4 separate regions of the Homo sapiens genome follow, and all the other regions are linked to region 2. Evidence: fine-mapped expression QTL. A gene starts in region 2. Each other region holds a variant in brackets. All regions are shown on one strand. Distances are from middle to middle. Region 1 overlaps ATP8A1 (ATPase phospholipid transporting 8A1). Region 2 holds the start of ATP8A1 (ATPase phospholipid transporting 8A1). Region 3 has its middle 52 kb from the start of ATP8A1-DT. Region 4 has its middle 79 kb from the start of GRXCR1.

Evidence for each region.
Region 1: its variant is fine-mapped to the expression of ATP8A1 in atrial appendage (GTEx, PIP above 0.99).
Region 3: its variant is fine-mapped to the expression of ATP8A1 in nasal epithelium (TOPMed, PIP above 0.99).
Region 4: its variant is fine-mapped to the expression of ATP8A1 in subcutaneous fat (GTEx, PIP 0.99).

What each region holds. Positions count from the first base shown.
Region 1 is chr4:42,592,035-42,597,165 of GRCh38, reverse strand. All of the region lies in intron 6 of ATP8A1 (ATPase phospholipid transporting 8A1), which reads left to right. Among named protein-coding and RNA genes, the nearest start is that of ATP8A1, 63 kb to the left of the region's middle. The variant G/A (reference allele first, on the strand shown) is at 2,123.
Region 2 is chr4:42,654,522-42,659,682 of GRCh38, reverse strand. It overlaps ATP8A1 (ATPase phospholipid transporting 8A1), which reads left to right and starts at 2,578. Exons shown (of 37, transcript NM_006095.2): 1 at 2,578-2,858. The coding sequence starts at 2,810. It overlaps ATP8A1-DT (ATP8A1 divergent transcript), which reads right to left and starts at 2,160. Exons shown (of 1, transcript NR_186688.1): 1 at 1,336-2,160. RefSeq lists enhancers at 2,142-2,351, 3,342-3,391 and a silencer at 2,382-2,851.
Region 3 is chr4:42,707,233-42,712,393 of GRCh38, reverse strand. No RefSeq gene overlaps it. Among named protein-coding and RNA genes, the nearest start is that of ATP8A1-DT, 52 kb to the right of the region's middle. The variant G/T (reference allele first, on the strand shown) is at 2,540.
Region 4 is chr4:42,811,511-42,816,671 of GRCh38, reverse strand. No RefSeq gene overlaps it. Among named protein-coding and RNA genes, the nearest start is that of GRXCR1, 79 kb to the left of the region's middle. The variant G/T (reference allele first, on the strand shown) is at 2,638.

The DNA of each region.
Region 1 (5,131 bases), 63 kb after region 2:
GGCTACTGTGGTTGCTCTTTAATGATCCTCAAAGGACCTACAAATTTGCCTAGCATGCATCTAATCATTCACAGCTGGGCAGACTTCAGCTCTCAGATATTAGTGGTTTATCTCTCCAGTTACTGCCCTGAAACCTTTTCCCTGTTGCAAAAGGTTAACTTGCAGATACATAGTTTTAAAAGAAAGTATGGTAATCACAAAGCCCTACACAAGGAACTACATTGTGACTCCTGAACGGTAAGCTGCTGGCTTCATTGCTCTTGCCACAGATTATTTCTTTACAATGAGGTGCAGCTAACACTGTTCACAGGTTTTTGAGATGTATGCAGGTGGAGAATTTAGCCAAAGAATCTTGGAATCAACGTATTCTTCTGGCTTATTAAGGAAGCATGGTGGGCTGTATGCATGTGTAAAAGTTACTCTGTAAAGCCACTTTTGTGCATGAAGCTTCCACCACAATATGTATTTCTTTTTTCTTTTCTTTTTTTTTTTTTTTTTTGAGATGGAGTCTCGCTCTGTTGCCCAGGTTGGAATGCAGTGGCGCAATCTCGGCTCACTGCAACCTCCACCTCCTGGGTTCAAACGTTTCTCCTGCCTCAGCCTCCTGAGTAGCTGGGATTACAGGTGCCTGCCACCATGCCCAGCTAATTTTTGTATTGGTAGAGACAGGGTTTCGCCATATTGGCCAGGCTGGTCTTGAATTCCTGACCTCAGGTGATCCGCCCGCCTCAGTCTCCCAAAGTACGGGGATTACAGGTGTGAGCCACCATGCCCAGCTAATAGTTGGATTTTTAAATCAGGCTATTGCAGTCTGATAATCTTACTATTTTACATAATCCTTGATGTTGCAAATATGAGTGACTTCAGAAGGCTGTAGGTAGTGGACTGAAAGCCCTAAACATTTCCTTAACTTTGGCATTTTGGGGACTAAAATTGCTTTATCATGACATTCCTCCAATTAGAATATGTATGATTAAAGCATTTTTGTCATCTTGACTTTTTCTTCTCTTGGTTCCTCTTATGCACACACTAGGCTGGAAGGGGAATGCCGTATTAGGAGCTCAGAATCCAAAAGGAAAGACAGGTGTTTGGATGTCTTTTGAGAAATTGATCTTAAACATAGACATTCTAAGGAGTTAAGTTCCCTACTTTCCTTACAGTAAAGAACTTTAGCAGTCATTGATTTAGCATGCTTTAGTAAGAACTTCAGCATTTAGTAAGCCCCTGGTTTTCCCAGGCCACTGGGGTACCATATAAATTGTTACTATTTTATTGAGTTTAGGAACCACAAGCCCTTCTTTTGTCTTACAATGAGTAAAGATGTTGGAAAGCAGCACAATCAATTAGGGATTTGTTTAAGTCTGACTGTTAGACTCTAACACGATAGTGTAGAGGACGTGATTCTGATTTTGTGAAGCACACAGTTGAATTTAAGAGGAAACATTAACATACAGGAGTTGATTAAAGAAAATTAAATGGTAACCTGGATGCATTCTAAGTGCCATGATTTCAGAGAATTTACATTTTATTATCTTTCTCAGTGAGTGTAATCACAGTACCATCACAGCACATTATTTTAAGGACCAGTTTACATTTATACTTGCAGTTTTTAATTTTTCCTCTTTGCCCTTTTTTGAGGTAGGGGGTGTTTGATTCCAAGATCCCTGGTAATTTGCCAGTTTCAGCTAGTCCAACTTTCAGATTTCAGCTGAATTATTTTTTGAATCAAGGGACCCAGAACTTAAGCATACGTGTCATAAATAAAAAGACAATACCCCTGCCCCAACCTTTTCTAACCTCTTCTTTTGGTAAATAATAGACTGCAGTGGGCTGCCTCTGCAGTAATTTCTTATTATGATTCCCACAAAAGACACTATTCTGTTCTTACCCTCATAGTGTTATTTTAGAGTTCAAGGAAAAGTAGGGAGGGGGAAGAACAAACAGGCTTTAATTTAGAAAGTCTTTTTTTTCCATCTATTAAGTATTGAAATTCATGTTTAGTCTCATTTGTCTACTAAGAGGTCAACTTTCATGATGTAAAGGGAGCGGCTAACAGTGTAACTTGGTCAACTCAGTTAAGCCAAGTTGTTGCTTAGTTACTGTGTTGTTTGCCAAAAGCTAT[G/A]TGACACATCTGTCACTTAAATGACTGCTATCAGTTTTTGAAAATAGTATCTCTTTATCTTTATGCCAGGCTCAGAAAAATGCTAAGAGGTAGTACAATGAAGAGATTAATTTTTAATTTAAAATACATTGATAGTTTCACAAAATTATGCAAAATCAGGATTTGCAGACAGTCAAATGTGGATTTGAGTCTAAGCTCTTCAACTCCCCATGATCTTGAGCAAAAATCTCAGAATCTCAAACTCATTTTCTTTCTCTCCAAATGATGAGTTATAAGCAATACTTGTTTCACAAGCGTTATTGTGAGGAGCAATTATATATGATAGCGTCTCCAGTTGCATTGAGATTTTCTTCAATAGGATAAAGATTTATATTGGTAAATCCCTCCTTTATATTTTTATGTCAGAGAGGATATGAGAAGTTAAGGTGTCAATTAAGTGGATAGAATAGATTGATTTTATCAAGATAAGTTATATATCCAATATACAATGTTCATTTTTTTTAAAGGATTCCTCCAACCCTGGTCTCACTCCTAGATAATTTTCTTCCATTTTGTGAAGATAAGTGGTTCTTGTTTGCCGATAACCATTTTTACTGTGTATTCTATGCTTTTTACAATGGGTTGTATATTTGTAACTATCTTTCAATGCAGATAATTAACCAATTCCCAGTTTTCTTTCAGGTAAATGTTGGAGATATAGTTATAATAAAAGGCAAAGAGTATATACCTGCTGACACTGTACTTCTCTCATCAAGGTAGAGATGCCTACTGATGCTCAAACAGTGTAGAGGATGGTTTCTCTACCCTGCATTGACCTTGTGATTTCTCCAAGGAAATAAGGAATAAACGAAGAATTTAAAACCTCTCTAATAATTTTTATTTAAACATTTAAAAAATTGATTGGACTTAAAGGGCTTTTTCATGTTTGCCATATAGAATAAGTGATAGGTACTATACTTTATCATTCAAATATAATTAAGAGTCTACTCTCCCTCTGGATCTATCCAGATCTTTTGTGGGGATCATAACTCTTTTAAGATTTCCTGTCATTTATTTTATATAATACATGGATTGGGTTCTATTGATATTTTTTATCTTTCAGTCCTTGTTCGTCATAAATCCCTACAGAGTTTCTTGATTATTATGATGGAATGGTATAAAAAAATGGATGAATGATTCTTTTTGCCATTATGCCTTTTGAAATGCCATACTCTTCCAACACAAAAGTACTTTGCTCTTTCTTTTAAGTTCTTTCAGTTACTTAATTTAAATAATTTTCATTTTACTCATATTTTAATCATGAATTAGTAGTCAGAACATATGGCACTGTTACTCTTTAAAGAATGTGACTTTCAAATGGTTTTAGGTTTAAAAACTATAAACTAGTCCTATTTTAAATTAAGAAAAATTGTTTTTAATATTTTAGAGGTTGTTTATCATCATTTCCTTGGACAGGTTTATTTGTAAATCCACATATGAATATGGACAGTGTCCTTTTTTCAAAATTTATTTAATCAGGTCATCATTTAAAGTGATTTGATTCATGACAAGTTAGCGAAACTTAACAAATAAAAGTATTTATACTAGATATTTATAGAAGTAAGTCTACAACCAATTAAAGTAACTGCAGGTAGTTATATTTCTATAATTTTGTGCCATGTACCTATAGGTTTTTGTTTTCAGAAAAAATAATATAGATGTTTTCAAATCACCCCCTCTGTTCTTAGTTTCCTTTGCTTATAACTTTATCAGGATAAATCTCTAAAACTGAGTGAAGCTAACCGTCCATTCTTGGCGTCTTCAGAATTAGCTTGAGGGAGAGCTTATTGTCATTGTCTCAGGTTCTAGGTAGTATCAGGCACTAGAAAGAGCTCTCTTTAGGGAGTGAAAAGCCAGGATTCTTATTCTGATTTGGTGATTTTGAACCAACTGCTTAATCTCTCATGCCTTGATTTCACATCTTTTATATTAAGATGGATTAAATGATCAAATTCCAATATTCCCCAATTCTTTTTGTTTAAATTGATAAGCTTTAAGAGTACCTTACAGAATGGTGTCCATTCAGTTTTACTAAGTAAAAATGTGATGAATGTATTGGACACTTGGCCATCTGAATGTTTGAAGTCTTGTGCTGCATAACAACATTTTGGTCAATTACGAAACACATATACAACGGTGGTCCCATAAGATTATAATGGAGCAGAAAAATTCCTATTGCACAAATACTTAGTATTGTGTTACTGTTTCTTTACACTATTCCATACAGTAACATGCTGTACAGGTTTGTAGCCTAGGAGCAATCTGCTATACCATATGGCCTATAGACTATACCATCTAGGTTTGTATAGGTACCCTCTATGATGCTCACACAGTGACAAAAATGCCTGACAATGCATTCCTCAGAAGCTACACCTGTCATTGTCACGTGACTGTATATAAGTTCAAAATGATAGTAACACCTTCTAACAATTTGGGAAAGTATTGTTTTCCCAATTAAACTCTTAGAGACATAATTATAGAATGAATCATATAGGCTGAACCGTTAAATACAATTTTTATTTTTGATGCTCAAAAATGTGAAGATAATCGACTATACTGCCCTGAATTTGTATTTAATTTTAAGTTGGAAATTTTCAAAATCTTTGCCGTCTGACTCTATCCAACTTCAGAAACTCCCCAGCAAGCTACTTGTATTTCTTAAACTTTAGACCACTTTTACAGAATTTGTTTTATAAGCATTAAAAACACTTACTGGTGGCTATGAATTTCAATTTATCGAAATAGTTTCTGTGTCTTAATATGGTCTCCACAGCGATTAACTTCCTCCAAGATTATATTTTTAAAAGATTATCTGATTCATTGCTTTTTGTTATTGAGTAGAATTCAAAATAAAAGCTGTGCTGCTAGACATTTCAATCCAAGTAGCAGAGTACCACCTTTCAGTATTTTTTTTCCTCAAAGGGTTTTAGCATTACTTAGCTCCTTTGAATCTACATTAACCTCATGAAA
Region 2 (5,161 bases):
TCCATAGTTGCTGCTTGTCTATTTGGCATGACATATTAGCCATCTTGTTGCTACTGCTGTTTAGCTTTCATTAAGTGCCTCTATAACCTAGTTCTCTGGCTCAGCACCTCACACGTGTTACGTATTCAATGTACATTTTGTGGAGGATAAAACCTGGATCTTAGGGAAGTTGTCCTTAAATAACCCTCTTCCTTCTAAGTCTATCAGCAGTATAGTCATATGACCTGAAAGATTTTAAATGATCTTGCTGACATCTGAATTCTACTACAGATTCCGTGACAAAGTCATGTGGCTGGAACCGGAGTTCCCTGCCAGGGGCTGGCACATTGCACTTCTCACACAATAGAAGGTGAGACGATCTGAGAGCCTTAAAATCAAGCAGATGCAGATTAATGCAATCCTCAACTTCAATCAAGTTCTGAACCAATAAAAATGTGTGATTTCTAGCAGTCAGGAATGAGTGGTTTTTAAGAAATAAGGTAGTTGGGATACGCTTGCCATTATGGATAAAGTGATAATATCAGGGAAAGGACACACGGTAATCTATAGACTATATCATGCAATATTCTTCTCTGTATAAGTGACTTGTTTCCTGTATCAATGACGTTTTCAACTTTGCTGATGAGTTAATGGGACACACATGTAAAAAATGGATTGCTCTATACAAAACAGAGGTAACTTCTGGAGTTCCTTCAGTTATTACTTGTAAATAAGCAGAATTGAACCTCAACCCCATCTGAGGACTAATTAGGAATTACAAAGGTGATTGCTCATAAATGAACTATCGTCATGCTGCTGCGCACTGATTTTTAATAAGAACTGGTTATGGCTTCATATAGAATTACACCTAAAATGTTAATCAGAAAAGCACTGCATTTCCTCCAGTTTCTGTTCGCTAACTTTTAAAGCTGATTATTATTTTTACTATTTTCCTTGCTATGTTAGCCCTTTAATTTTGTTTCAGACTCATGTTCATTAAGCCAGAGCAAGCCTGCTTTATACAAGGAGACCCTGGGCCTTGGAAGAAATAAAAATGCCCAGTGATGACAGTCCAGATAAAGCTGTGTTCATTTTTTACGTTTAGAAGACCATACTTTAAATCATGACTATCACTGAAACAGATAGATTCATTTATTGTTGAGTCCTGCTTTACCCTGAGATGTTCCATGAACACTGAGAATACATTTTCTTTGTTCTAATTCCAGCCTCTGAATCAGAGCCAACTAGAGTGGGCTCTTCATAAATATGCATTGACTGCCTGAGTATTAATGTAGGGCAGGGCTCTGATTAGCAAGTGCTACCTGCAGGAAGCAGAAGAAATACCACAAATGGAGATAGGACGCTATTAGCAGATTTTATTTCATTTTTTCCTGAGGCTTGGAAATAATCACTTCTCTCTCAGGTCAAACCTCTCCAGCTCTCTCCCTTCAGGATGTGAAAAGATCTCAAATAAAAGGCCTCTATGTGAGGATCTCTTTCGCTGGTTGCTGGAGGAAGAGCATGAAATGAGGGAAGAAGCAAATTGCTTCTGATTTATTGTTTCTGGTTTATTCCTTTCCTGCCAGTTCAGCAGCTCGCCAGAAACAGCACAAAACCTTACATCTTAACTTGAAGGTGAAGTATTTGTTTTGACAACTTTTTAGCATAGATCTCGGTATACAAAATAAAAGGTAATGAGGCTATGATAGTCTGAAGGACATCGGCAAATTAAAATTTAACATATTTATGGATTTTATACAAAGACTCCTCTCCCCTTTGCAGATAAAACGACTGCATCCAACTTTATGCAGATTTAACTAAAAGAAAAAAAAAAAGTCTTTTGTGAACCACCTGGGCCAATACTTAGTTGGCTTAATTGCTATTTCAGTGCCTTGTCAGGCTGCAGAGCCTGAACTAGGGAGATGCACCGGGCCCACTTGCAGGCGGGGCCCAGATGCACCCAAGCCCCATGGACAAGAGCACCATGGGCACCAGGGGCCTCCCGACCTGGCAGCCTGTTGCTAGTGGGCGAGGCAGGAGGACAAGTGCGGCTCAGGCCACGAGTCGGGCTGGGCGTGCAGAGAGGTTAGAATTACACCCAGATGGCGAACAGTCAGTCGTTCCTTTCCTGCTCTGGCTGGGAGCTAAACCTTGTAGTCCCAGACCCTTTCGCCTTCGCCTGCCGGCTCAGACCCAACAGCTCTTTCCGGACGACGGGCGGCTCCACTGCGATCAAAAGCCAGGGGTAGCGGGAGGGGATTCGTGAGAATGCAGCAGCCAGAGCAGTCTTTCCTTTCTGAGCAAGATGTGAGAGAGTCCGAGTGGCCTGGAGGAGGAACCGGGTCAACCAACTCCACAGGGCGGAGCGAAAACGCTGGAGGACTAAGGAGGCTAAGAGTTGATCCCCCCTTTGAGTCGTGATACGGTCCGAAGCGGGGCGGGGCGGGGCGAAGGAGGCTCCCCCTGGCTCTCCCCGCCCCTCACCCGCCTTCCTTGCTGAGCGGCCGCGGGAGGGGGAGCGCGAGCCCCGCAGGCCCCTCCCCCGGCGCCGGCGCCCGAGCTCCGCCCCTCGCCGAGCCGCCCCTCCGCGGCTGCAGCAAGAGCTCGCCCAGCTCTGCGGGCGCCGCCACCTTCGCCGCCACCGCTGCCTTTCTCCTCCTCCTGTCGGCGTGCGGGGGCCGCGCCCGGCGGCAGCTCTGCCCTAGGTGGGCGGCGGCGCGGCCCAGGCTGCAGCTGAGCGCTCTGCGCGGCGCAGCCGGGTCTCCCGCGTGTACCACGCCGTGACAGGTGCAGAGTCCGGGCTGAGGACCCACCTGCAGCCGCCGCCGCGATGCCCACCATGCGGAGGACCGTGTCGGAGATCCGCTCGCGCGCCGAAGGTAAGGGGCCGCCGAGGCTCGGGGCTAGCCCGGGGTCGGGAAGCGAGTGTGTGTGTGAGCGTGTGTGTTTATCCTGGAAGAGACCGCATCCTACCTCTTCCCCGGCGGCAGTCCGACTGTCGCGCCCGGCCCCTAGGGGACCCTTCCCCCCGCGCTGCCCCCAGTGTACTCGCAGACCCTTTCCAGGCTCCAGTACCCTCGAATGGGTGTTCTCCGCGGGAGCCCCGAGGCGTGCTTTGCACCGCAGTGTGACCATTAGGTCCCAGTCACTGAGCTCACTCGCCCTGCCCACCTCCCTCCCCACCAGTTCGATTTCCACTCAGCAGATCCCCAGCCCGCCGCCCCTGCCTCCGGCGCCCACCGTTTTGCAACCCCCTATCTGAGCTCCCAGCGAAGCGAGTTTGCTTTTCCCCGGCTGCAGGATCCTTTGATCCGTAGTCCCTTGGCTCTCGAAGCGCGGGGAGCCTTCATCGGGGTCGGGTGCCGAGTGGGTTCCCTGCATTACAGCTTCTGCAATTCTGCCTCCTGCAGCGGAGTCCCACCGGCTCGCGTCTGAGGTTTCGTTTTTGTGTTTCCCTTTTGCCCGAAACCCTCACTTCGGCCAGCTGAGCTGACTTTTCAGCCAGGTGGAAGCTGTTTTCTTTGCTCCACCTGGGGCCAGCTCTTGAATGGCCATGGTTGTCAACACTGAGCAACAGATGCTCCGGGGTAGAAGCAAGTAAGCTTTCCGAGGGCCCAGACTCTTCATCGTCTCCGAGGAGCCCTCAACATCCTGCCTGCCATGTGGCAGGCACTCTGTAAATATTATTTGATTTTGCTCGCGTCAAAGCCAAGACTGTAAATATCCCAAGGTTTGTTTGTCCTCTCCCATAAACCTGTACTTGAATCCTGCAGAGGGTGGAATAACATGTTTTTCAGAAATCTATCTTGCCATCATCGCTGATTCCCACTCTTCCTCCCCACCTCCATCTTTTAATGTGAGACAGGTGGTGAAGTGGTTTTAGAAAAATATATAAGTTAGGAGAATTGGATTTCAGGGATGGAGACAGGCCATTTTTTCTCCTTAGGGGCTCCCTGTAAAAATAGGGTCCCTGAAATTTTCTGATTGCAGTATTTAGGAAATATTAAATGAAACTGCTGTGGGGAGAAGACGAAGCAAGATTCAAAACTGGCCTGTGTACTACATAGGAATTCGGTACATGCTGTCATTTGTAATACCCAAAAAATACTTATATAGGGCATTATAGTTTTACATACACAGTTGAATACATTATACTTTTAAAATGCACACTGTAAAAATTCATTTTTTTTACACTTCTGAGTGAAATTAGTCATAGAGATAGTGAAAGTAGAATGGTAATAGTTGGTGGTGTTCTTTTAAATAATAGCAATTGATGGGTCCTATATTGTGGGAAATAAGGGGAAGAGAAAAAGTCTGAGAGCACTGCAAAACCTGTGGCATGTGAGGGGATTACAGGGCTGCAGTATTGTTCTTGATTGGCTTGTGTATTTTCCAAAGTACTTTTACAAAGATTACTTTATGGAAACTTACAACACTCCTGGAGGTTGGTGAAGGTGGAGTGCCATCTGATAGTTGAGGAAACTGTGGCCCATATGGTTTAGTAATTTGCCCAAGGTCAAGTAACTAGTTCAGTGACACATTTGGATTAAGAGCTCTGGGAAAACAAGGACTGCTGCTTGTTTAATCTTTGTATTCCCTGTGCGTCCAGCACAGTGTCAGGGCCATAGTGGTGCTTGGTGAGTGAATGACCCTTTCCCCTGAGATTAGTTGATTCCAGTTTATTATAGCTTCAGCATGTGCTTGGGACTGTGGTGAAGACAAATAATGACTCTGTGGGGCTGGCGTTGTGGCTCATTGCCTGCTCTGCCCACACTTTTCTTTCCTAGGAAATATTTCTTTCCTAAAAAATATAGTCCTACCTTTCCTAAGGAATATTCTCCTTTGAGAGAGGCCCTGCTGCCTAGAGGGCCTTGTTCTGAACTGCAGCCTTTTTGGCCTCAGCTGATTGGACTATGGTTGGCTCCTGACCCAGGGTCAACCAATTCTTATGTGACTCAGACACTTGTAACCTTGTGGTTTGGCTCAAAAAGAGTCTCTGTGTTAATCATATCTCTCTTGAAAACATTAAAGTTAGAGATTTAGAGTAAAAGCAGAAGGGAGCAGAGGTGAATAGGCTGGTATGGGAGAGAATGGGTGGCCATAATAAGTCATGGGAATGCTGCTGATAGAAGAAAGCAGAAACTATGAGTGAGTAGAGAGATAGCAAAGAAAATGGAATGGA
Region 3 (5,161 bases), 53 kb before region 2:
CTCCAATAGTTGGGCTATAGGATCTGTACTCTGAAGCACCATGCTATGCCGCCTAAATTTAGGTTTTTAACAGATGATTCTGTACTTCATCTAATGTAATTTAATTTCCAGCCTTAGATAACATTGTTTTCAAATACCTCTTATAACCCAGCATATAGTCTCAGTCACTTCAACTATGATTTAGAACTCTACATTATTTTCCTCTCAAACAGAATCCATTCCCACTAAAGACATTACTAAGCAATGTAGATTTTACCAAAGATTTCATATAAGAAATGAAAAAAGGAATTTGCATCAAGTACCTGATGGCAAACTACAGTGTTTTATGTGATTGATGCATTTCTGAAAACACCAGTCATTCTACTCAGGAAACTGGAAAGATAATTATCCCATAGGAATAAATGTAACAGTATATTATAATATTCTAAACTTTCTATTACAAAAGAGGCTAGTAATATTTTTATATCATACTATTCCAAATTTGAATAGTTCAACTTTGCATGAAATAAATAAAGTATGTAAGTCTTCCCCATGGTTTTCATAATGAGGAAGAAAGGAATGTTCCTTTCCATCCTTCTATCATAGAACAAGCTAACTCTTGCCTCCAGCTTCCTAAAATCTTAGTGCTCAACTGCCCCCACACAAAAGTTTCATCCTTTATCTCACTCAGCAATTTAGTCCTACTTCATCCCCCATACCAGCTTATCTACACATGAGGTTAAACAAAGATCTCCCCATCCACAGGAGCCCACTCTTCTTAGAAAAGGGAAGGAAGTGGATAGAAGTATATAGATTAATACAGTGTTGTATGGGAGCCAGTTTATCCCAACTGTAAGCCAACTGCTAAATTTTCAGGAATTTTGCAAGTGGTTCTTAAACATGACCATTATTAAAAACTGAATTACAGCCTTGGAGCAGTGGGTCATGCTTGTAACCCCAGCACTTCGGCAGGCAGAGGCAGGCGGATCACCCAAGGTCAGGAGTTCGAGACCAGCCTGGCCAACATGGCGAAACCCTGTCTCTACTGAAAATACAAAAATTAGCCAGACCTGGTGGCGTGCAACTGTAATCCCAGCTACTTGGGAGGCTGAGACAGAAGAATCGCTTGAACCCGAGAGGCAGAGGTTACAGTGAACCAGGATGGCGCCACTGCACTCCTCTCCAGCCAGGGTGACCGAGAGAGACTACATCTTAAAAAAAAAAAAAAAAAAAAAACAAACAAACAAACAAACAAAAAAACCTGAATTACATAAGCTTATGATTAAATAAATTACACTCAAACAAAGATTATAAATACTCAAAAGTGACTGCTTTCTAGTTATTTTACTATGTACTTTTATCTGTGCTCTGGGACTTAAGTCTTTTGTGTCTATATGGTGAAAATACCATATAAAGTGTTCTCCAGTGCATCACTTCCCAACTCTGTGTTCAATGCTGACATACTGGTAGCTTGAAATGAGCCACAGTGGGAGAAGCTATGGTACAGAAATTGACAAAGTTTATAACTAGAGCTTTTTTCTGCCTGGAGATCCTATGGTTAAACATTTACTAGCCATTAGATACTTGGTTTGATAGAGAGGGATACATACATTCATATACTCATTCATATATATAAATGTACATACATAGAATTGTAGCTAGATCAGCACTGGCTTCCTACAGAAATACCTCTGTAGGTCTTTTAATAAAAATTCTTGCAAATTTCAGTAAAACCACTGGATATTATATTTACCACTGGAATATAGAGCACGTGGTTTCACAGAGGGTATGAAAAGTTAAATTCAAACAATCCACTGAATCTCCTTTCATGTAAACAGCCAACAATAGAGAAAAGAAACTAACAATAAGGACCATGTAGAGCTGGCACAAAAGGCTCTTTGACGAACTAGGAGGAAAATGCTGAGCCAGCACAAGTTCCCCGGAGCAGATTTATGTATTCTAAATTATAGGTGGTCAGCATAAACGTTCTCCAATAGTAGGGCACACTTAGAAACCTCCTCTCTAAACAAGAAAAATGATATTTTAAGTTGCAGGGAATGGTAATCGATTTCTACACAACAGAGCAAGACCAAGCAAATTTGAAAAACTTGCAACTAGAGAACTGGGGGCTGACTTTGTGAAGAAATTTTCTCCAGTTCCAACCAAAGTAGGCAAAAATACCTTTTTCAAAAATGTAATGACACTGTATATCTAAGAGGTTTATTATATTGCTAATGATAATATACAGTAGTAACTGCAGCTTGGGACCCAAAGAGCAGAGGCAGCTCTGCTTCATATTTAATATCAAATGGCTCATACCTGCTACAGGCATGTTTGCAAATGGAAAGTATGGTTTTATACAAAACGTTTAAATGTTACATGTTTCATGATGGTAGTTATAAACATTAAAATAAACATGGGCTGGAAACAATTCAATTCAAATATTTATAATGTTCAAATCACCGTTCTCATCACCAGAGAGATATAAAGATTATTCCCCACATTGCCAACATTCACAGGGTCACTGGGGAGACACAACTAAGTGTAACCTGGAAAACCT[G/T]CTTAACCAGCTTGGAGTACAAATATGGTCACACTTTTAACAATTGAATTGCCCCATTTCTGAGTTATCTAAGCTCTTTCTGCAACAGGAGTCTTGGGAAGAGAGGCATTTATTCAGTTCAAGGAGGACCGTTTGTAGTTCACAAGACAAAATTAGAGAGTTTGATCAGGGCACTGTGAAACTTGGTTTATAATTTTCATTACTTTTGTTGCTACCACCTGGTGTGTCATTATCGAAAATGTGTCCTTGCTTTTGGTTGCTAAGTCATCCTTGCTGAGTCAGGTTCTTGAAGAGGCTGCAGTGATAATTCGTGCTTGGGCTCCCAAAGTTTCATCTCCTTTAGTTTGCACTCACAAACCCACCATGACAGGATGTCAGATCAGAGAAGTTTCTAGCCCACACTCAAGCTCTATCACAAACAACTGACCTCCACAAACAGGGACAGTGGTAATGAGTCTGGGTCATTAGTAAGGTCTTCCCTCTTCACAGCGAGCTCCCCTTCGGTCCTTCACAGCTTTTGTGACTGGGAACCACAGCAGGACCTTCTCAACCTATCAGAAAAATTCTACCACTAAACCTCTGAAAGAAAGAGATGGCATCTCCCTATGTCTTCTCAGGATATTCCTTGGCCTCTCTGCAAACATAGCTACCTCTTCACCAGGGATTAGTTCTGAATGTTGAGGGGTACTAGAGGGACAGGAGTTACATATACTTCACACTGCAGGTGCAAATTCACCTTGCAGTTGTACAACTAAGAGAAAATATTTGGGTTATTCCCCAGAACAAAAAAAAAAATCTGCAAAAAAGTAATATTCTGTTTCTACAAAGACAGATGGCCAGTTTAGTCCTCTTAAAAAGTACTGTCTCACCAGATACACTCCAACTTAAATAATTTAGAAGGTAATCTGGGCTATGATAAATGTGTGCACAAATTCAATAGGAGCATAGAGCACCCAGCAATTAAGTTTGACTGAATGGATAAGGAGAGCTTTCAAGAGCCAAAGATATTTGATCTGGGACTTAAAGTGTGGGTTATGCAAACAGAGAGGGAAAGGTGTTTATGCGCAAAACAGCTCAAGGGAAAAGGATGTGTAAATATTCAAAAGTAAAGGTGAGCCATTTACCTGGGTGACAGAACACAGGTTTCATGGGCAGCCAGGAGTGAAGAGTGGGGAAAAGAAAGTTTGCTGTAGACCTACCTTGTGTTCAGCTTTGAATATCATGTTAATGAGTTTGAACTCTATTCCAAAGATGATGGGAAGCCACTCAAGGATTAAGAGCAGAAGAAGTAATGTATTTGAATCTGTAATTTAGGGAGATAACTGATACCTATGCAGAGGATGGACAGGTGAGAGGCTGGAGCTGTTCTCAGCATCCAGGGTAGAGAAGGTGCAACCCTGAGAGTAGAGGCAGTGGCAACAAATGGAGAAAACTGATTCTGGGCCGGGCACGGTGGCTCGCGCTTGTAATCCCAGCACTTTGAGAGGCCGAGGCGGGCAGATCACATGAGGTCAGGAGTTTGAGGCCAGCCTGGCCAACATGGTGAAACCCCATCTCTACTAAAAATACAAAAAATAGCCGGGCACGGTGGCAGCCGCATGTAACCCCAGCTACTCGGGAGGCTGAGGCAAGAGAATCACTTGAACCCGGGAGGCAGAGGTTACAGTGAGCCGAGATTGTGCCACTGCACTCCAGCCTGGGTGACAACAGCGAAACTCCGTCTTCCAAAAAAAAATTAAATTAAAAATAAAATTAAAAATTAAAAAAAAAAACTGATTCTGGTAACATTGCAGGACAGATTAGCAAACACTGGGGAATAGCGGAAGAAATGCAGAAGGAAAGTGATGCTGAGGTTTGTAGCTAGGGAGATTGGATAAAAGCTACACCATTAACCGTCCTGGGAAACATTACAGGAGGAGAGTTGTAATGAGGCTACAAAATGATGGGTTTCTTTTGGGCATACTGAGTTTGAAGTGCTTACAGGACATTCATGTGGAGAAGCATTTTCTAAATTCACTTTTTAAAAAAGAGAGAAATGTTTTTATCTCTAGGTAATAAATGGTGATAACTGTGCCAGAAGGACATCCAAATACTTTTCAACAAAATTCCTCATCACAAGCAAATATTCTGCTACAAAAACATTTCTGGCACCAGTGAAACAGGGTAAGTTAAAAATACATATATTATTTTTGTTTGTGTAATTATATAATGAATAAGACACTACAAATCAATGCAAAAGAAAAAGATTAATAAATAACAAAGATCTACAGTGGCTATTTAGAAAATAATTACGGATTTAGAGACTTTCCTCATACCATATACCTAATTAAGTTAAACAAAAAATAAAGTAGAAGAAAATGAAGGTGGTTATTGATCCCAGTCTCTGGATCTCAGGATAGAAAACATTTTATACACTTAAAAGCAATGGGAAAAAAATCCCAACATTTATGGTTAGTAAATTTGACAATATAAGCATTTTATATCTCTCCTTTAATAAACATTAACTGAATTTAAAAGACTTTAAAAAGTAGCATTGAAATTTATTAGTCGCAAATATGACAGAAAAAAATAGTATTGTTTATACGTAAATATCTAGTATTTTTCTTTAAGAAAATCAATAAG
Region 4 (5,161 bases), 160 kb before region 2:
CACACACACGAGGTCCTTCAAGTAAATGATTAAAAAGAAAATTAAGGTCAAGATAGGACAAGTACTGCTTGATACTGTATCAAATATCAGAGAATGCTTGCTTATTAGAAAAGAATCATTGCCAGGATTTGAGAATAAAGCTAGCATTATAAACAAAAAGCCCAGAGTAAGGTAAGCCAATGGCATTTTCTTCTATGCCAATTACTAACCAATCTCGGAGACTCTGCGAACAGCCTCTGGAAGGCTGTAATAAGTATTCGTAGCTGCTCTGGCAAGCAGGGCCTAGAGCCCAGAACAGGAAACACATTTGCTCAGTGTCTAATCCAGCTCAAAAAGTAAGCACCCTGAGTAATTCTTTCCACTCAAAGGACAGGCTATCTTTTCTGAGCCCAGACCTGCTCGCTGTTAGTGTAGAAGATTCCTTTAGAAAAATGTAAATGAACAAACAAACAAATTGAGTAAAAAATAAAAGATGAGAGAAAACCAGTCATCACTTTAGGACAGGGTCAAGTATAGGGAAGCATGGAGTATTTCACTGTGAGAGGTAACCTTCATTCAAATTAAGCTGGTCTTAAAACTTTAAGGTAATAGGCAAGAGTTAATGGGTTTTAATAATTCTTTGGTAGGTTAATTGACAGGATTCCTTTTCTCTGCTTCTTTTAAGAGCTTAGGCTCTGGAATAAGTTGGCTTAACCTGGATTCAGGAATGAGTTCCATTACAGTCTAAGCTCTGCCACTTAAACAAGTTACTCTAACCCTGTTTTCTCATTTCTCCAGTATGTATACTAACAGGATTTATTTCATAAGTTTTGGGGGAGAAGATTAAATGAGATAAAACATGTAAGAAGCCTGACATATCATAAACCCTCAATAAATGTTAGCTATCATGATCAATATTATCATTTTCTCTGTTATAATAAAGAAAGTATATTTCCCCTAGCAAATTACTAGCCAAAAGTGTCATACCTACCAGAGAACTTTGGTGAATCTGTTATTCTCTTTCCCCTATTTTGAACTTCTCTTACTATTTACTGGATCATTTCCTAGCAAAATTGAATCATGTTTCTTACTATCATGTTTTTACAAAGCACCCCCCCGAAACCCCCTGCCAATGCCACCTCTCCTTTTAGTTAATTGCTTCCTTCCTCCTCACTTGGTTGGAAAAAACTCTTGAAATAATAGTCTACACACATGGTTTTCCAACTTTCATTCTCATTCCAGCCCACCCCATTATGATTTCAGCCCCTTCTATTCCATTAAATATCTCTACCCACCAGCTAAGTTTTACAGTTACCTCCCTTTTTGCCAATTCCAATGGACACTTTTCAATCCTCATATAACTAGAACTTTGAGTCATATTCAATTTAGTTTACTCTCTTCTTCTTGAAAAGCATGCTGGGGTGTTTTTCCCTTTTCATGACATTTTCTGCTGGTTTTGGAAATAATAGATTTTTCTATATTCAATTCCCAAAGCTCTTCTGTTCTCATTTACATTCTCTCTATCAGTGATCACATCCAAACCCCATGGCTCTTCATATTTCCAGCCAAGATCTCTTAGTACAATAAGCAACCATCTCCTTGATATCTCTCCTTGAAGTCTTCGAGGCATCTAGATTAACTGTGTTTAAAACAAACTCTTAATATTTCTACACATGCCCCAAATAGTCTCCTCAAGTCATTGCATTCCTATAATCACATATCCACCTACTTCCTTGATCAAATAAATGTCATTCATGACACCTTCCATTTCCTTATCTTTCCACATCTAATCTGCTGTTTGTATCTGTGAATTGTCCCCTTAATATAGTGGCTCTCAATCGAGGGCAATTTTACTATGCAAGAGATATTTAGCAATGTCTAGAGACATTCTAAGTTTTCACAAATTGATGGAGGGCATTGGGGGTTGGGCTGGGGAATGCTACCGGCAGAAGAAGGGGTCAGGCATGTTGTTACACATTCTACAATGAACAGAACAAACCCCGCAACAAATAATTATCTGGTCCAAAATTTCAAGAGGGCTGATATGGTTTGGTTGTGTCCCCACACAAATCTTATCTTGGATTGCAGCTCTCATAATTTCCATGTGTTGTGGGAGGCACCCAGTGGAAAATAATTAAATCATGGGGGTGGTTTCCCCCATACTTTTCCCATGGTAGTGTCTCATGTCATCGGATAGTTTTGTAAGGGGAAACTCCTTTCACTTGGTTCTCATTCTGTCTTTTGCCTGCTGCGATGTAAGATGTGTCTTTTGCCTTCTGCCATGATTGTAACGCCTCCCTAGCCATGTGGAACTGAGTCCATTAAACCTCTTTTTCTTTGTAAACTATCCAGTCTCTGTAATGGACTGTGGAATATGTCTAGTGGAATATGTCTTTATTAGCAACATGAAAACGAACTAATACAAGGGCCAAGGTTGAAAGACTCTGCCCTAACATATATTGTGAATTTGTCAAGTTTTCTCGGTCTCCATTGTCAGTACTCTGACCCTCTCTGGCTTTATTCTGTCACACATGACCCTCTCTGGCTTTATTCTGTCAGTGGTGTCCTAAGTGGGCTCTCACCTCCTTCACTCTTGCCTCCTACCTTCTCATCCTCTTCTCTGCACAACAGCCGGAGTAATCGTTGTAAGGTGTCAAT[G/T]TGATCCCATTGTAACCCTGCCACCAGCATGACACCCTTTGGTGGTTTCTCTACTGCACCTAGAATAATAGCCCAGCTTCTAATCATTCCTAAGCCCTTGTCCTCCTCTCGAACCTTGCCTCTCACATCACTCTGTCACCACTCGGTCTTCCTGAAGCAAACGGTCCTTTTTTCTCTTCCTCAACACACCAGCCCCTTTGCTTCCTCAGGATCTTGCCCTAGAATTCTCTTCCTCCCACTCTGTCTAATCCCTACTCAACTTTCGTACACTGTAGAAACATCACTTCACATTCAGCCTCTCCTCTACAGCTCCATGATTCTCCCCAGTGGCATTCTTTCCTTTCAATTTATGGCTCTTGGACAATTTCTAATTATATTTTTGTATAAATATTCATTGTTTAGTACCTGTCTCCCCAAATATACTATAAGTGCTTTGAGGTCAAGGAGCAGAGAAATGAGAAGAACTCTAGCAGTTCTGGAAATGTGGCACATGTGATCTGAGCAATTCAAAAAAGAATGGAGGGATTAAAGCAATCTTCACTTATTTCCTTCATAGCTTTGTCTATCTCATATTATTGTGAGTTCACTGGCTTCCCTATACTCCAGCATGGGAGAGGAGCACACATTCCTGTGCCCACTGAAAGTGGAGGTTCACAAGGGGTATACCCAGCTTCATCCACATTTCCCATCTCTATTCTAAGTCACCTCTGCTTCACTCTCCTATCACAGTGATGGACATCTTTAGAGTATTATTGCTGGTACAAGCACACAAAAACTTTTGTCACTTTCTGTTTGAAATACTTTGTCATGAAATATTAAATTTTATACTTTTCAGAAAGCACATTGTATGTGAACCTTTGTGGAGATAGTGAAGAAGAATTCTTACGACCTTGAGGAGTCAGAATTTTTATAATAGAAAATCAAAAAGAGAACAATCAATTTTCAGGGTATTCTTTTTAAGTTCACAGAATAAACTCTTGAAGTCCTCATCAGAAGCAATCACTTTGAAAGTCAAAGTCATTGATTTGCAGAGTGTTATTTTGTTGAGAACAAAAAAAAAATACATATCTTGAGCTGTAAAAGGGAAGATTCTAGTGGAAGTAGTAACTAGTGGATAGTTTATTCCATAACAAAGCATGGAATAGAGCAGGAATTCAAATTATCCAAGCCCTGGGGAGACTGAAAGTGTTCTTCCAGACCAAGAAAGGACAGCAAGGTGGAATAGTACAGGGTGTGAGCCTGGTAGAGGCCAGTGGGTTCTGAGACCTGACAAGCTCTGGTGAGACCATGCAGAGGGGAAAAGAGTCATTATTGTGATAGAACTGAACCCAATTGGCCTCTATCACTAGAAAGCTGCTTGGAAAAAGAGACAAGTCCATAGATCTGCATGTCCAAAATGGTGACTACTAAGCACATGTAGCTATTTAAATTTAATTAAAATTAAATGAAATTAAGAGTTCACTTCCTCAGTCTCACTAACTACATTTCAAAGCCTCAATAGCCACATGTGGCTAGGGGTTACTGTATTGTACTGTATAGAAACACTTCCATGGTTGCACAAAGTCCGGTTGGACAGCACTGCTATGTATCTCTGGTCATGCTCAGGTGCACCCCAAACATTCTGGAGCCTGGGGCAAGAGGAGTTACATATCACATGTCTAAATATTGAAAATGTATATATCAAGCTAATAAACTGTTAAATATAGTCATGTTTTATGTGCCTATGTTGACAAATATGTTCTTAATTACCTGGAAGTCCAAGGACAAACAGAATTCTCAGACTTCTTTGAATTTCACACTGACTAAAATGTGATGGTATCCAGAAAACAAGTCCCCAGCCCTCAAATCACAGTCCAGACCTTTCCCATCTTACTTGCACATGACACTGTGAGGGGCCTTCCACACATACATGGACAGCCCAGCCTACATGTGCAAGTTCCATCACATCCCTGCAAGCGAGGACCTCAAAGTGCAGACACCTGCAGGGAAGCCCACCCAAAGGAGGAAGGACTCAGAAAAGTATCCAACATGGACCCTGGAAATAGGATCAGGGTCATTTGGACCCCAGGATCCCAAGTACACAGAACATAATCTAGATAGAGGAGGAGAGGATAAGAGCTCCTGGTGGCCATGTCCCCTCAAGCTCATAGATTCTTTGTCTCATTAGAGGTCATATCAGAAAGGGCCAGAACAGTGCTCTCTAAAGGACTGGTCTCAAGCTACTGCTCTTCTCTGGGTCTAATGGTGATGCTTGCCATATTGGGTGAGCCTACTACTACAGACTTCCAATGGATACTCAATACTGCCTGATAATCCTACGATATTCTTCTAGTATATTTACTCTCTCACTTTCTAAAATGGTTATTCTATGCCTCTCCTCTTTTCTAACCTCCAGCACATTCTCCCTTTCCTCATTCTCAGCTTGCTTCACATTTTACTGAAAATGTAGAGACCACTGGAGGAAATTTTCATTAATTTTCCAACAAATCTGCCTGCTACCTGCATCTGCACCCACACTACCCTC